Linked DNA regions of Homo sapiens. The protein of the gene in region 1 purifies or fractionates together with the protein of each later gene. This does not show direct contact. Each region holds a gene or a part of one and is shown on either strand. Other genes may lie near its edges.

Evidence for each region.
Region 2: the proteins of MAP4 (region 1) and CCP110 purify together in Homo sapiens (affinity purification with mass spectrometry; one large-scale study listed by BioGRID and IntAct). This does not show direct contact.
Region 3: the proteins of MAP4 (region 1) and SPRYD3 purify together in Homo sapiens (affinity purification with mass spectrometry; one large-scale study listed by BioGRID and IntAct). This does not show direct contact.
Region 4: the proteins of MAP4 (region 1) and KIF2C purify together in Homo sapiens (affinity purification with mass spectrometry; one large-scale study listed by BioGRID and IntAct). This does not show direct contact.

What each region holds. Positions count from the first base shown.
Region 1 is NC_000003.12:47,855,917-47,859,416, reverse strand, and holds part of MAP4 (microtubule-associated protein 4), read left to right. Parts: intron 1-1,904; coding exon 1,905-1,986; intron 1,987-3,500. UniProt on the Homo sapiens protein: Non-neuronal microtubule-associated protein. Promotes microtubule assembly.
Region 2 is NC_000016.10:19,544,442-19,547,941, reverse strand, and holds part of CCP110 (centriolar coiled-coil protein of 110 kDa), read right to left. Parts: intron 3,146-3,500; coding exon 3,044-3,145; intron 2,849-3,043; coding exon 2,732-2,848; intron 2,126-2,731; coding exon 2,052-2,125; intron 1,531-2,051; coding exon 1,468-1,530; intron 1-1,467.
Region 3 is NC_000012.12:53,076,591-53,080,735, forward strand, and holds the start of SPRYD3 (SPRY domain-containing protein 3), read right to left. Parts: upstream 2,801-4,145; 5' UTR 2,744-2,800; coding exon 2,721-2,743; intron 672-2,720; coding exon 525-671; intron 1-524.
Region 4 is NC_000001.11:44,746,337-44,749,836, reverse strand, and holds part of KIF2C (kinesin-like protein KIF2C), read right to left. Parts: intron 3,444-3,500; exon of another isoform or gene 3,081-3,443; coding exon of another isoform or gene 3,078-3,080; intron 2,454-3,077; coding exon 2,352-2,453; intron 2,186-2,351; coding exon 2,137-2,185; intron 1-2,136. UniProt on the Homo sapiens protein: In complex with KIF18B, constitutes the major microtubule plus-end depolymerizing activity in mitotic cells. Regulates the turnover of microtubules at the kinetochore and functions in chromosome segregation during mitosis.

The DNA.
Region 1 (3,500 bases):
TACTGGTGGCATTATATCTGTCCTCTGGAAACATGGTGAAGACTATATTTCCTGACACCAAAGAAGGGAAAACAGGGCTCAAGAAGGTAGCTCACCATTTAACAGCTTGTGGTGAAACCCACCAGAATGGTGCAACACTGCATGGAGTTGATGTGTTGGAAAGTCAGGCTCTCCCACAGTACCTACCAGAGGACAGCGGGGCCGCTCACAGGAATGCTGGAATCCCCATCCAGCAACCCAGAGGGCATGCATGGCTATAGACTTAAAGATGCACCACCTTTTTTTTTTGAGGCGGAGTCTCTTTCTGTTGCCCAGGCTGGAGTGCAGTGGCACGATCTCGGCTCACTGCAAGCTCTGCCTCCCGAGTTCATGCCATTCTCCTGCCTCAGCCTCCCGAGTACTGGGACTACAGGCACCTGCCACCACGCCCGGCTAATTTTTTTTGTATTTTTAGTAGAGACGGGGTTTCACCATGTTAGCCAGGATGGTCTCGATCTCCTGACCTCGTGATCCGCCCGCCTTAGCCTCCCAAAGTGCTGGGATTACAGGCGTGAGCCACCGTGCCCAGCCAAGGTGCACCACCTTTAAATGCAAATTTTTGCATTTTTAGTAGAGATAGAGTTTCACTGTGCTGGCCAGGCTGGTCTCAAACTCCTAGCCACAGGTGATCTGCCTGCCTCAGCCTCCCAAAGTGCTGGGATTACAGGCATGACCCACTGCACCTGGCTGGGAAAATTGTTATAACATGGATTAAGCAGGAATACTATGATTACACACACACACACACACACACACAACGCGCACACACACACACACACACACACACACACCACCCCCTCACCTCTCCCAAGGGGAAAATGCATTGAAAAGGACTAGAAGTAAATATGTTATTCCAGGTTCTCTGGGCAAGGAGTTGATAGGTAAGGATTTGAGATGGAATAAAGGGGATATTTCATGGGAGCCTTGGTGCTGGTGTTTGGACCTGGTGAAATGACAGAAGAGCTGTCTGGAGCATGCATGGACAGGGTCTGCACAGAAAGACCTGTGGGGTGTGGAAATGGTGGTTTGGTCTGGCTGGAGGTGGGGTTAGAAGTGAAGGCTGGTGGCCGGGCGTGGTGGCTCACACCTGTAATTCCAGCACTTTGGGATCCTGAGGCAGGCGGATCACCTGAGGTCAGGAGTTCGAGACCAGCCTGACCAATATGGAGAAACCCTGTCTCTACTAAAAATACAAAATTAGCTGGGCGTGGTGGCGCATGCCTGTAATCCTAGCTACTCCAGAGGCTGAGGCAGAAGAATCACTTGAACCCGGGAGATGGAGGCTGGGGTGAGCCAAGATCGTGCCAGCCTGGGCAACAAGAGTGAAACTCTGTCTTAAAAAAAAAAAAAAAAAAAGTGAAGGCCAGGCGTGGTGGCTCACGCCTGTAATCCCAACACTCTGGGCTCTGGAAATCTGAGGTGGGTGGATCTCCTGAGGTCAGGAGTTCGAGACCAGCCTGGCCAACATGGTGAAACCTTGTCTCTACTAAAAATACAAAAAATTAGCCAGATGTGGTGGTACACGCCTGTAATCCCAGCTACTCGGGAGGCTGAGGCAGGAGAATTGCTTGACCCCAGGAGGCGGAGGTTATAGCGAGCTGAGATCGTACCACTGTACTCCAGCCTGGGCAACAGAGCGAGACTCCATCTTTAAAAAAAAAAAAGGAAGTGAAGAGCAGGGCCAGGGTGGGTCGAGGGCTCTTTTAAGTACTTAGGGAGATGACCTTGTCTTTGACCAGACTGAGATAGCAGCTTACAGAGGGAGCGAGAAACCCTGAACATGGAGAAGATTTAAAAGGTAGCATGGGGTTGGCTCTGACAGTATACCTTCTCTCTGAATGAGTCTTTTGTGTCCTTCTCTTCAGGTTCAGATTCAGAACAAGAAAGTGGACATCTCTAAGGTCTCCTCCAAGTGTGGGTCTAAGGCTAACATCAAGCACAAGCCTGGTGAGTGGTGCCTCCCTTGCCCACTGGGTCTCCAGGGTATGTCGTCCTGCCATGGGTCAGCTGGGCAGCCAGCTGGCTGGCAAGGGTTTCATCTCTGTGCCTTTAGCATCCCATGAAGACTACCCAGGACACCACAGTCCTCATTCTGTCAGGGAGCAGGAGTTCGGGTGCTAACCTCTAAGTGGAGGAGGAGCAGTTTCTTACAGCAGCCATCTGCACAGGCATTCTCTTGAGTACCTACTGTGTGTGTGGAACTATTGAGCTAGGCCTGGGGAAGTGGTGCACTCTGAGCTGAGAACCTGGATTGGCTCTAAACGAGGATTACAGAAGCTACTGCTGAAGGAGCTGTATAGAGGGCAGTGTTCAGGTCCCACCTATCAGATGCAGGAGCAAAGGGTGCTCCCAACCAGTGAAGCATCAGCCGCTAGCCCTGGCAGGAGAATGGGAGGCGTTCAGCAACTTGCACTAATGCAGTTTCCTTCCAGCAACATGGTTGGCCCAGCGCCCCTGTGGAAGTCGCTGTGCGGAGGCTGGGCTCTTGCCTTGGGTAGTCCCCTAGCAGCCTCGTGTCCTAGTTCCTGGGTCTACAGCAGATTTGTGAGTAGGACTGCTGTAGCAGCAGGCACACTGGCTGGCAGACCTGGTATCCCAGAAGGCTAGCCACCACAGGCCAGATAAGGTGAAGGCAAAACTCTCTTCCCTCAGGGCGGGCGCGGTGTCTCATGCCTGTAATCCCAGCACTTTGGGAGGCCAAAGCGGGCGGATCACTTGAGGTCAGGAGTTTGAGAACAGCCTGGCCAACATGGTGAAACCCTGTCTCTACTAAAAATACAAAAACTAGCTAGGTGTGGTGGTGCATGCCTTTGGAGAATTGCTTGAACCCAGGAGGCAGAGACTACAGTGAGGCGAGAGTATGGCACTGCACTCCAGCCTGAGCAACAGAGCGAAATTCTGTCTCCAAAAAGAAAAAAAAAAAACTCCCTTTCCCTCTCAGCGAAGAGCATGATCCAGTTTAGAATGTGTTCTATTTAGAAAGATCAAAACAGTTCTGTCCTTAACTAACCATTTTTTTCCCCTTTTATCTGGGAAATCTCCTATCAGATACTTCCTTCTCTAATGACACTGAGTCACTTAGGGTCTAGTTTTTGCCAGGGCTGGGTTTCCCAATATGGGACACCGGGAGACCTCGGCCAGAAGCTGTGCGTGGAGGTCTGCCATGTGAGCTGAGAGGAGATGGAAGAACAGGAGAAGGGGCCCAAGGGAAACCACGCTGCTGGGCGCGGGAGGGGCTGGGTACTCATTGAGGGCAGCTCGTCCCGCACCCTTCCCCTTGGTCTCATGGGCACACTCTGGCCAGTGAGCTCTGAACCCTGGGCGTGAGTTCAGACCACTTTCCCTCCCCGTCCTAGCCTGAGGTCACTAGATCCCAGGCCTGCCTTGGTCCATGTCTTTCCTTCCTCAGCGCACAGCCTCGGGGCCACTCTGTCCTTTTTATTATTCCTTCTTTTTGCTAG
Region 2 (3,500 bases), on another chromosome or scaffold:
AAATGAAAAATTAATTTAATAGGTTAAATTCCATTTTTTCCCATTTTCTTTCAACGGATGAAAGATGATGACTGTAAGGTAAAGGTCAACTATGCAATAATATGGCCTATATATTACCACAAATCAGAGCAAATCGACTAAAGCATATTAATATGATACTTGTATTTTGCTCACTAAGAGTCCAAACCTTAGGTTTTTATCAGCAAAGAAATGTCCAACATATAGACTAACCCTTGTGCTTTTAGATAATTTTCTTATACATATGCTTTACAAAAGCTAACTTTTCCCTTCAAACCAGTGAGAGAAGAAAGTATCACTCTCATTTTACAGGAGTAAAAAACAGGTCAGAAATATTAAAGTTCGCTTTTTAGCTTTATTTTTTATTTATTTATTTTTTTGAGATGGGTCTTACTATGTTACCCATACTGGTTTGAATTTCTGGGCTTAAGCTATCCTCCTGCCTCAGCCTCCCGAGTACCTGGGACCATAGGAGCATGCCACTGTGCCCAGCTTAAGTTAGCTTTTTTTTGAGACGGACCCTTGCTCTGTCGCCCAGGATGGAGTACAGTGGTGCAGTCTCGGCTCACTGCAACCTCCGCCTCCCAGGTTCAAACAATTCTCCTGCCTCAGCCTCCTGAGTAGCTGAGCAGGCACGCGCCATCATACCCGGCTTTTTGTATCTTTTATTTTTGTATTTTTAATAGAGACAGGATTTCACCATCTTGGCCAGGCTGGTCTTGAACTCCTGACCTCGTGATCCACCCACCTCACCCTCCCAGACTGCTAGGATAACAAGCATGAGCCACTGCTCCCAGCCCAGCTTAAATTAGCTTTCTAAGGTTTTTAAATAAGTATCAAAGATCCTCTGGACTGTCTAACTGAACTCAAGACATACCACGCTCAAAATTTCTACCACAGATAGCATGTCCTACAAAAGGTCCGGGCACATCTGGTCTGACATGTGACTAGGTATATGGCCAGGTATTGGTATGAATCTTGAGCCTGAGGACGACCCCCGACCCAATTCAGCAAGAAGTGCTCTACTGATGTCAAGTAGAACAAAGTCAACAAAAATGAAGTTTGGGATTTAAATTTTAATTTTTTAACTTTTTTTTTTTTTTTTTTTGAGATAGAGTTTCACTCTTGTTGCCCAGGCTGGAGTGCAATGGAGCAATCTTGGCTCACTGCAACCTCTGCCTCCCGGGTTCAAGCGATTCTCCTGCCTCAGCCTCTTGAGTAGCTGGGATTACAGGCATGTGCCACCACACCCAGCTAATTTTGTATTTTTAGTAGAGATGGGGTTTTCCATGTTGGTCAGGCTGGTCTCAAACTCCCGACCTCAGGTGATCCATCCGTCTTGGCCTCCCAAAGTTCTGGGATTACAGGCGTGAGCCACCGTGCCCAGCCAATTTTTTTTTTCTATAAAAAACAAAAAGCCTCTCATTAAGACTAAGTGATTTTTCTCACCTTGTTTCAGAAGGATTTTGTTTAACCAGAAATTTCTTATTTGGCATTCCCATTTCAGCAGCTCTAACACAATATAAAAATAAGGACATAATGTATTTAGAGAAGGGAAGAAAACATGCTTACAAATGTAATACAGGATGACAGAAACAAATCATCATTTAGAAGCTGGTGTACTACTGGAAGACCTGTACTAAGCATATTAAAGACTGCATTCAAGAAAGAAGAATTTTTTAAAAAAGTTATTAAGATATTTTTCCCATTAAGTCTTTATTCCCAAGAAACCTTTAGGACATCAGAAAAGGAATATATTTAGGCACTGAATATAAAGATTAACTGTTTTTAAGATTAACCAGCTATCAGTTATATGAGTTGAATGTTGTCAAATTTAGTAAATAAATTCATCTAAGATGAAATGAGATTTTAGCACCTGATTTTAATAAATTTCTTTATATAAAGGGGATTTCTATCAGCTCAACTGCAGAAAAATTAACTCTTTATTTCTAAATTTAAATATGCAAATAGACCAACAGATGACTAAAATTAATTGGTTTGATAACTAACATGACATGATACAAAAAACTTACTTCATGTATTTCTTCCTATCAAGAGACTTCTGTGTTGCAGCTGAAAGAGCCACTCGTGGACTTTTCATTTTATCCTTTAATATACAAAAGTAACGTCAAACTCTACTGGAACCAATTAATACCACTATATTATAATGTATTATAATCCCACATTGCCTGGAAAAGCTTCTCTCTACTAACATTTTTAATTTAGTTAAATCATCTTGTTTTGTATTTTTGAAGCAGTCTAATTCTAAGAATTAAATAATTAGAATTATGTAAATTTTGCTTGCTTTTCCTTTGCCAATCACACTAAGATAACTGATTCAAATCACATACTCTGATATACTTCAAATTAACTTGGAGCCTGTTTTCTAACTCAGATTTCAAAAAAAGCAAAACCCACATTATAATTGAATTCAAGGAAATTCAATCAGGAGCAGCTGATAGATTGTATAAGCCATCTGAGCAAAACATTCAAAGCTTCAACTCTAAAATCCAATAAGAAAACAATATGTAATTCTTAAATGATGTAATTCTTTTAAATCTGTCTACAGATTTAAATGCTGCTAGTAATTCCAGGAATTACTTGTGCTTAAGAATTATCAGAAGAAGGGTGCTGAAGTCAACCAAAACTGACATTTAGTATCAATTACCCTAAACCCAGAAGAACTCTATTCATTAGAAATCATATAACATACCATTTGCCTGAGCATTTTCTCTTTGCGAACTTCTCGATCATGATGTAGAATAGACATTCTTTCAGCTGCATCCATTACAAAGAATATGTCATGAATACCGTACAAGGCAGCTCGCAACTAGGCACAAGAGAAGAAAATATTGTATACATTTAAAAGATGAGGTTAGAGTTCAGGAATACTATATACCATGTACACTTATTTATAGAAAAAGATTAAAATAGTTTTCATTGAAACCTATTTTCAGTGATTAAATAAAAAAGGAGAAATATAATATGTCCATGTCTTAAAAGCCTTCAGGATCCATGTATTTACCTGAGCTAACACTCTTTCCTGAAGTGAAGCATCTTGAGCTGAAACAATGCCTCTCTTTAATGGTGCTTCTGACTGAAAACTTCTTATGAATTCCATAGTATCCTGAAAAAAGAAATGCTCCTTCAAAAACATTTTTCTAGAAAGATTTGTGATCACTGGAGTTTGCTTTTTTCTTTTTCTCAGTCAATCCAAAATTACAGTCTTTCGTCAGTATCTGTGGGGGACTGGTTCCATGAATCCCTCAGATACCAAAATCCAAGGATGCTGGAGTCCCTTATATAAAATAGTTATCTGCATATAACCTAAGCACATCTCCCATATACTTTAAATCATCTCTAGATTAGTTAAAATACCTAATAAATGTACATGCTATGTAAATAGTTGTTATATTGTTTAGGAAATAATGACAAGGAAAAAAAATTTGTACATGTTCAGTACAGACACAACCATCATTTGT
Region 3 (4,145 bases), on another chromosome or scaffold:
GTGATCCCTTCCCCTACCCAGCTGGATCCCCTCCTTGCTGGATGAGGACAGAGCCACCCAGTGACAGAGGCAGAGGTGAGTGCAGGGTGAAGCAGCACACACTGCTCCACTCAGAAAGGCCTCTGGGCGGGTGGATCACTTGAAGTCAGGAGTTCAAGACCTGCCTGGCCAACATGGTGAAACCCTGTCTCTACCAAAAATATAAAAAATCAGCCGTATGTGGTGGTGCACGCCTGTAATCCCAGCTACTTGGGAAGCTGAGGCAGGAGAATCGCTTGAACCCAGGAGGCGGAGGTTGCAGTGAGCTGAGATCACGCCACTGCACTGTAGCCTGGGTGACAGAGCGAGACTCTGTCTTAAAAAAAAAAAAGAAAAAGAAAGGCCTCTGGAGTCAAGAGCATCGCCCTTCCCTGTGCAGTGCACAGTCCCCTTCTCTGAAAAAATAAAAGTTAAAAAAAAAAAACCCTTTCCTCTCTAAGATCTGGAACAGAGAAGAAAATGTGGAAGCATTCTCCTGAACTCACCTTAAAGTATCTCCATCTACAAGGATATGTTTGAACCTCTCCTGATATCGGAAAGCTCGGACCTCTCGAATCTCCCGGATCCGCCGGCGCCAATTCAGAAACCGGTAGTGCAGGTTGAGGTCATCCATCTTGTTCATGAGAACAAACCTGCCAAGGGGAGAAGGGGATTGAGGAGAAAGCAGGGCCCTAGGTAAAGCACCTCAGCCTCTGTGACCCAGAAGGTAGAGAAGGCACTGGCCTTGAGGCCAGCTGCCCAGATTGACCTCAACAACCCTCATCTTCTTTCTTCCATTCAACAAACATTTACCAAGCACCTACTCTGTGTGCTTTTCTCCGTGCTAGGGATGGAGCTGTGAACAAGATGGACAGGATTCCCATTCTCACAGGCTGGGAGGTGGACACGACAGGCAATAAACAGACATAATTTCAGGCAGTGGAGAAAAGAACAGGGTGATATGATAAAGAATCTGGAGGCAGTGGATAGAGTGGACAGAGGCGGTCTCTCTGAGGAGGTGACATTTGAGTTGAAAAGGAGCTAGGCATGACAAGCCAGGCATATTCCAGGCAGGAAGGGCAGCCACAGGTCCTTGGATGGAAGAGAGCTGGCATGGTAGAGAAACAGAAAAAGGCATGGACAGCTGGTATATAGGGAATGTGAGGGAGAATGTACAAGATGAGAATAAGGCAGGAGTCAGATCATGGCCCTACAGACAATGAAATGGTAAGGACTCTGGATTTTATTCCAAGATGGAAATTTCTGGAGGGTTGTAAGCAAGGAAATGCCATGATTGGCTGGGTATGATGGCTCATGCCTGCAATCCCAGCACCTTGGGAGGCTGAGGCAGGAGGATCGCTTGAGGCCAGGACCCAGACCAGCCTGGGCAACGTAGTGAGACCTCATCTCTACTAAAAATTAAAACAATGAGCCAGGTGTGGCAGCATGCACCTGTAGTCCCAGCTACTAAGGAGACTGAAGATGGCTTGAGTCTGGCAGGTCAAGGCTGCAGTCAGTTCTGATTGTGCCACTACATTCCAGCCTGGCTGACAGAGCAAGACCCTGTCTCAAAAAAAAAAGAAAAAAAAATGCCATGATCCTGGGCCTGGTGGCTCACGTCTGTGATCCCAGCACTTTGGGAGGCCGAAGTGGGAGGATCACAAGGTCAGAAGTTGAAGACCAGCCTGACCAACATGGTGAAACCCCATCTCTACTAAAAATACAAACAAATTAGCCAGGCGTGGTGGTGCGCACCTGTAATCCCAGCTACTCAGGAGGCTGAGGCAAGAGAATTGCTTGAACCTGGGAGGTGGAGTTTGCAGTGAGCCGAGATCGTCCCACTGCACTCCAGCCTGGGTGACAGAAACTCCATCTCAAAAAAAAAAAAAAAAGCCACGATCTTAATCAGTTCCTAAAGATCATTCCAGCTGCTGGTTGGAGAACTGATCACAAGAGGATCAAGAACAGATGTGGGCAAACAATTCAGACGTTGTTGCAGCAGTTCACATGAGAAATGACATCCACTAAGTCGGTAGCAGCGCCGATGGATGGGGGTGGGATGATCCAGGTATTTAAACAACCATCAGTCCCTACATATAAATGAATGAATGATTTTTCCTGGGAGCCAAAAGTGAGAAAGAGGTGAAGTACTCTTCTCTTCCCATTCCCTAAACACTGGGACAGGGGTTTTCTTGAGGCCTGACATTGCCTTGCACACGGTAGGTGCTTAGTAAGCCTTGGCTGGGCTGAATTTGATCCCAATACGCAAATTACGACTCTTATGCAGTAGCTACAACCCACCACGTGGCCCAGAAGAGTAGGCACCTGTGGGACAGACAGCCCTAAGATTCCACTCCCGGGCACTCAGCCAGGACTCAACCCCAGGTAGATGCTGGTTGCGCAGACCCCACAGTCTTGGCACCGGCGAGTGGCGGCCCTACTGGGCCCTGTCTCCTCCCCGGGCACGGCCTGATCACTGAGATGAGACCCGGGAGCAGCCGGGCCCCAGCCCATCCGTGTGCCTACGCCCAGTCTCCCCAGGCCCTGCACTGGGCCGAGGGTGCAGCAACAGAAGAAGCCCAGTGACCAGAGCGCAGGGCCCCGCCCCTGGCCCCAGAGCCCCCGCCCAGGACCCCCGCCTTCCGCTTCAGGCTCCGGGGAGATACGAGGCCTCCGGGACCCCGCCCCCGATCCCCGCCTACCGGGGCCGCCGCGTCCTCCTCATCCATAGGCCTCTCAGCTCCGCACACAAGCTCTTCGGCCGCCGCCACCACACACATCCGGGTCCCCGCCTTTCCTTCACTCCTAGAGGCCCGCCCCGTCCCCCATCTAAGCCAATCAGCAACGGCCTCTGACGACGGGCACCTGCAGGAGCCAATCGGAAGGCGCAGGCAGGGTGTGGGGCGCGGCCCGGTGCCCTGGGTACCCAGCTCAGGGCCCCGGTCTGGTCAACCCGGCTGTTGCTGGGGTGAGCGAAGGCGACGTGGCAGCGCGGACGCTGCTGGGTGCCTGGGCGCCGCTGAGGCGGACAGGGGGCGGCTCTTGAGCGGCGCCGGGGAGACGGGACGGGCGGAGAAGGTGGCCACGCTCGCACAAACGTTGCGAGTATTACTTGAGCCCTCCTTCCGCGCTGGACTGAAATAAAAGCTTTACCGGAATGTCCATTTAATCCACGGTGCAGCCTTATGAAATAAATCTTATCTCCTTTTTACGGATGGGCCGAAGGCTGGCCTCGATAGCCTGCGCGCTTAACTGTTATGCTGTGTACCCTCCCGAGCTCTGTTTCATGGCACCGCTCGCTCATTATTGGCAAGAACATTCCATTCCAGGAGGAGAGAACTGGGGATGCAGAAGGCACAGTGGCACGAAGCGGCATTCTGTGGAGGAACACAGGGCTTTGGTAGGCTGAAGGAAAGTTAGACTGGGGTTAGAATGTGAAGGGACGAAGACACGAATATTTATTGAACACCTACTAGGGAGTGCCTACCTGCCATTCTGGGGGGTTGGACTCCTAGATGAGGACTTCCTTGCTCCCTTCCCATCACCATATCTCTCTCTTCTGGACGGAAAAGATTCCTCTCCTCTGTAGCACCTCATTTATAATACTTTTTTTTTTGAGACGGAGTCTCACTCTGTCGCCCAGGCTGGAGTGCAGTGGCGCGATCTCGGCTCACTGCAAGCTCTGCCTCCTGGGTTCACGCCATTCTCCTGCCTCAGCCTCCCAAGTAGCTGGGACTACAGGCGCCCGCCACCACGCCAAGCTAATTTTTTTTGTATTTTTGGTAGAGACGGGGTTTCACCGTGTTAGCCAGGATGGTCTCGATCTCCTGACCTCTTGATCCGCCCACCTCGGCCTCCCAAAGTGTTGGGATTACAGGCGTGAGCCACCGCCCCCCGCCATTTATAACACTTATTACCGTCTTGCTTTCGTTATTGGAGTTACTTGTGTGTGTAGACCCGTCTCTGCTAGACTGTGAGCTCCTTCAGACCCCAGACTATTCTATTCTTATCACACTAGGTACTCTAACGTGTTGAGTGCCAGGAAAGCCATCAGCTCGCATACCGTGAATAGTGCCCACTCGGCATAACGGCAATGGGTGATAGGAATAGATGAGATGGGAAACAGA
Region 4 (3,500 bases), on another chromosome or scaffold:
AAAGTGCTGGGATTACAGGTGTGAACCACCGTGCCCAGCCCATCTTTTTTGAGAGACAGAGTCTCACACTGCCACCCAGGCTGGAGTGCAGTGGCATGATCTTGGCTCACTGCAACCTCTGCCAAAACCAACTTCTACCCAGTTTCTGAGTATTATAAGTTCAGGCTGATGGCTATATATAATCCATGTTTTGAATTTTTACAATCGTCCTATTTCCCTAATGATTTTATTTTATTTTTTATTTTTATAATAAGACTGAGTCTTGCTATATTGCCCAGGCTGGTCTCAAACTCCTAGGTTCAAGCCATCTTCCTGCCTCAACATCCCAAAGCACTGGGCTTACAGGTGTGAGCCATCACATCTAGCCCCAAATGATCTGTAATTTTTTTTCTTTGTTTTTTTGAGACCGAGTCTCACTCTGTCACCCAGGCTGGAGTACAGTGGCATGATCTCGGCTCACTGCAACCTCTGCCCCCCCGGGCTCAAACGATTCTCCTGCCTCAGCTTCCTGAGTAGCTGGGATTACAGGCACCCACCACCACGCCTGGCTAATTTTTGTATTTTTAGTAGAGACAGGGGTTTCACCATGTTGGCCAGGCTAGTCTTGAACTCCTGACCTCAGGTGATCCACCCGCCTTGGCCTCCTAAAATGCTGGGATTACAGGTGTGAGCCACCACACCCGGCCAGTTTTTTGTATTTTGAATAGAGACAGGGTTTCACCATGTTGACCAGGCTGGCTTGGAACTCCTGACCTCAGGTGATCTGCCCACCTTGGCCCCTCAAAGTGCTGGGATTACAGGCATGAGCTACTGCTCAGGGCCTTAAAGATTTTTTTTTCCATTAAAATGAGCTGTGTAGCTGGGCATGGTGGTGTGTGCCTGTAGTCCCAGCACTTTGGGAGGCTGAGGCAGGAGGACTGCTTGAAGCTAGGAGTTCAAGACCAGCTTAGGCAACAAAGCGAGACTCCATCCTAAAGAAAAAAAGCTATTGGCTGGGCATGGTGGCTCGCGCCTGCAATCCTAGCACTTTAGGAGGCTGAAGCAGGAGGATCACTTGAGGCCAGGAGTTTGAGACCAGCCCAGGCAACATAGTGAGACCTTGTCTCTACAAAAAAAAAAAAAAAAAAAATTAGCCAGGTGTGATGGGGCACACCTGTAGTCCCAGCTACATGGGAGGCTGAGGTGGGAGGATTGCCTGAGCCCAAGAGTTCAAGGCTACAGTGAGCTACGATCATATCATGGTATTCCAGCATGGACAACCAAGTGAGACCCTGCCTTTGAAAAACAAAACAAAACAAAGCTGGGGCAATATCCTTTGAGGACATGAACACGGAATGGGACTGCTGCGAGTCCCAACTCTCCTGCATGACCTTACGGTACACCCAGCAAGAAAGGGCCAGCACCACAATAGTCAGGCCCAAGCTTGCAATGGCACCACCTTCCACTCAGGGCCCCCAGAACCTGAAGCTCCAGCCAAGTATTCTGTGAGTCCCTGAGGTAGCTGAATCATTTCAGGGCAATGATGACCCCTAGACCTGGAGAGCTGTGCAGGTCACCAGCCTTCAAGGTACAACTGGCTTTAAGCTGGATCTTTTGGGAAGCTTACCCCCTAGAGTCACAGTCTATCATGTTGTCAAAGTAGGTTTTCACAGACTACTTCTGCAGAGAGACTCCCAACCTCCTAGACCACGAGGCAATGCTGTTATTCTCTCCAGCCCCAGCCATCCCTCTCTATAGCGCCACCAACTGTACTTCTAAACAACCCACAGGCCTAGTGTCTCCCATTTTCAAAATCTCTTTCCAAGGCATACTGTTCCACTGAGGGGGCTGAGCCCCGAGGGAAGAAAAAAGGCCTACCAATGGCTGATTCCTACTCTCCTCAGCATCAGGCTCTGGATTCTACAGAAAAGGTTTCTAGGCCAGGCAGCAAATTTCCTAAATGCACCAGGTCTCTTAAAGGTTGGCCTGATAGCTGTAGATTGGATTCTTTCTCATAGAGAAAGATGCTTGGAACACAGGCAGGACTCAACCCACATAGAAACCACCTGCAAAAGAGGAGCTTCCACAACTCTGAGTCCTAGAAACATAATTCCTGACACAAATTCCATGATAGTAAGCTAGTAGAAATCCACTTACTTTCTTTTGGAGCAGGAATTTTGGAGTTGACGGATCTCCGTTTTTGTTTCTGAAAAACAAATCAAATTGTCACAATATATGGCTCTTATCAATTCTCAAGGGCCCATCCTGGGCCCATGTACTATGCTAAAATGCCAGACAATCAATCAGCAAAGAGTCAATAAGCAAAGTGAATTCTCTGGCGCACTGGCTGCAGCCAGATGACAGGCACCTACCTGGATTGTTACATTTTCCTGCAAGGGCAGATTGTCCTTCGGATGTAAGGGAAGAAGCTGTAAGAGTTCTGGGTTTATTGCAGCCACATCATCAAAATCAATCTGCAAGGAGCAAGTAAAAGTTTCAATGAAACAACATTGTTCAATCCAAATACATTTTTTCTTTTTTTTTTTTTTTGAGACAGAGTATCGCTCTGTCGCCCAGGCTGGAGGGCAGTGGTGCGATCTTGGTTCAATGCAACCTCTGCCTCCTGGGTCCAAGCAATTCTCCTGCCTCAGCCTCCTGAGTAGCTGGGACTACAGGCATGCGCCACCACGCCCAGCTAATTTTTGTATTTCCAGTAGAGACAGGGTTTCACCATGTTGGCCAGGATGGTCTCAAACTCCTGGCCTCAGGTGATCTCCCCACCTCGGCCTCCTAAAGTGCTGGGATTACAGGTGTGAGCCACTGTGCCTGGCCCCCCCGAGGCTGAGGCGGGAGAATTGCTGGAATCCAGGAGGCGGAGGTTGCATTGAGCTGAGATTGAGCCACTGCCCTCCAGCCTGGGCAACAGAGCAAGACTCTGTCTCAAAAAACAAAAAACAAACAAACAAACAAAAAAACAACATAGAAAAAATTAAATTTCTATAGACAGGGGTACCCCTAAATTCAAACTTTACCAACTTTAAGTTCCACTAAGTATGAATAGCTATAAAACAAATAGTTACTCCTTAATAATGGTTTACCATCTAGATGGATATGGGTTTCTGATTTCCAAGCCAATGGTAGACGTCAGTGATGAGAATGAGGTGAAGAGGAGGGCAGACAGGCAGGCAAACAGTCGGGTACTCCACAGCAGATCTAGGCCACTTGGCTCCCCTGCTGATCTGCTGGGCAGTGAGGTCCTGCTGGGCACAGCCCCCCAAGCACCTCTTGATGGCTGACACGGAGGAGGAAACAAGTTCTAACTGTCTGGTGAGAGTCAAATGGGGGCCCTTTAGGATCTTATGGGCAGGGGCAAGTTCCTGACAGCTGCTACCTAACCCTAAGACTACCTACATTTTCTTCTGGGCCCAGAAACTTCCCCAGTTACGGCTTCCTGCCCATGCCTTACCTATTTCCTGTTGATGCCTGCAATGAGGTCACAATTCTAAGTTTACATCATCAGA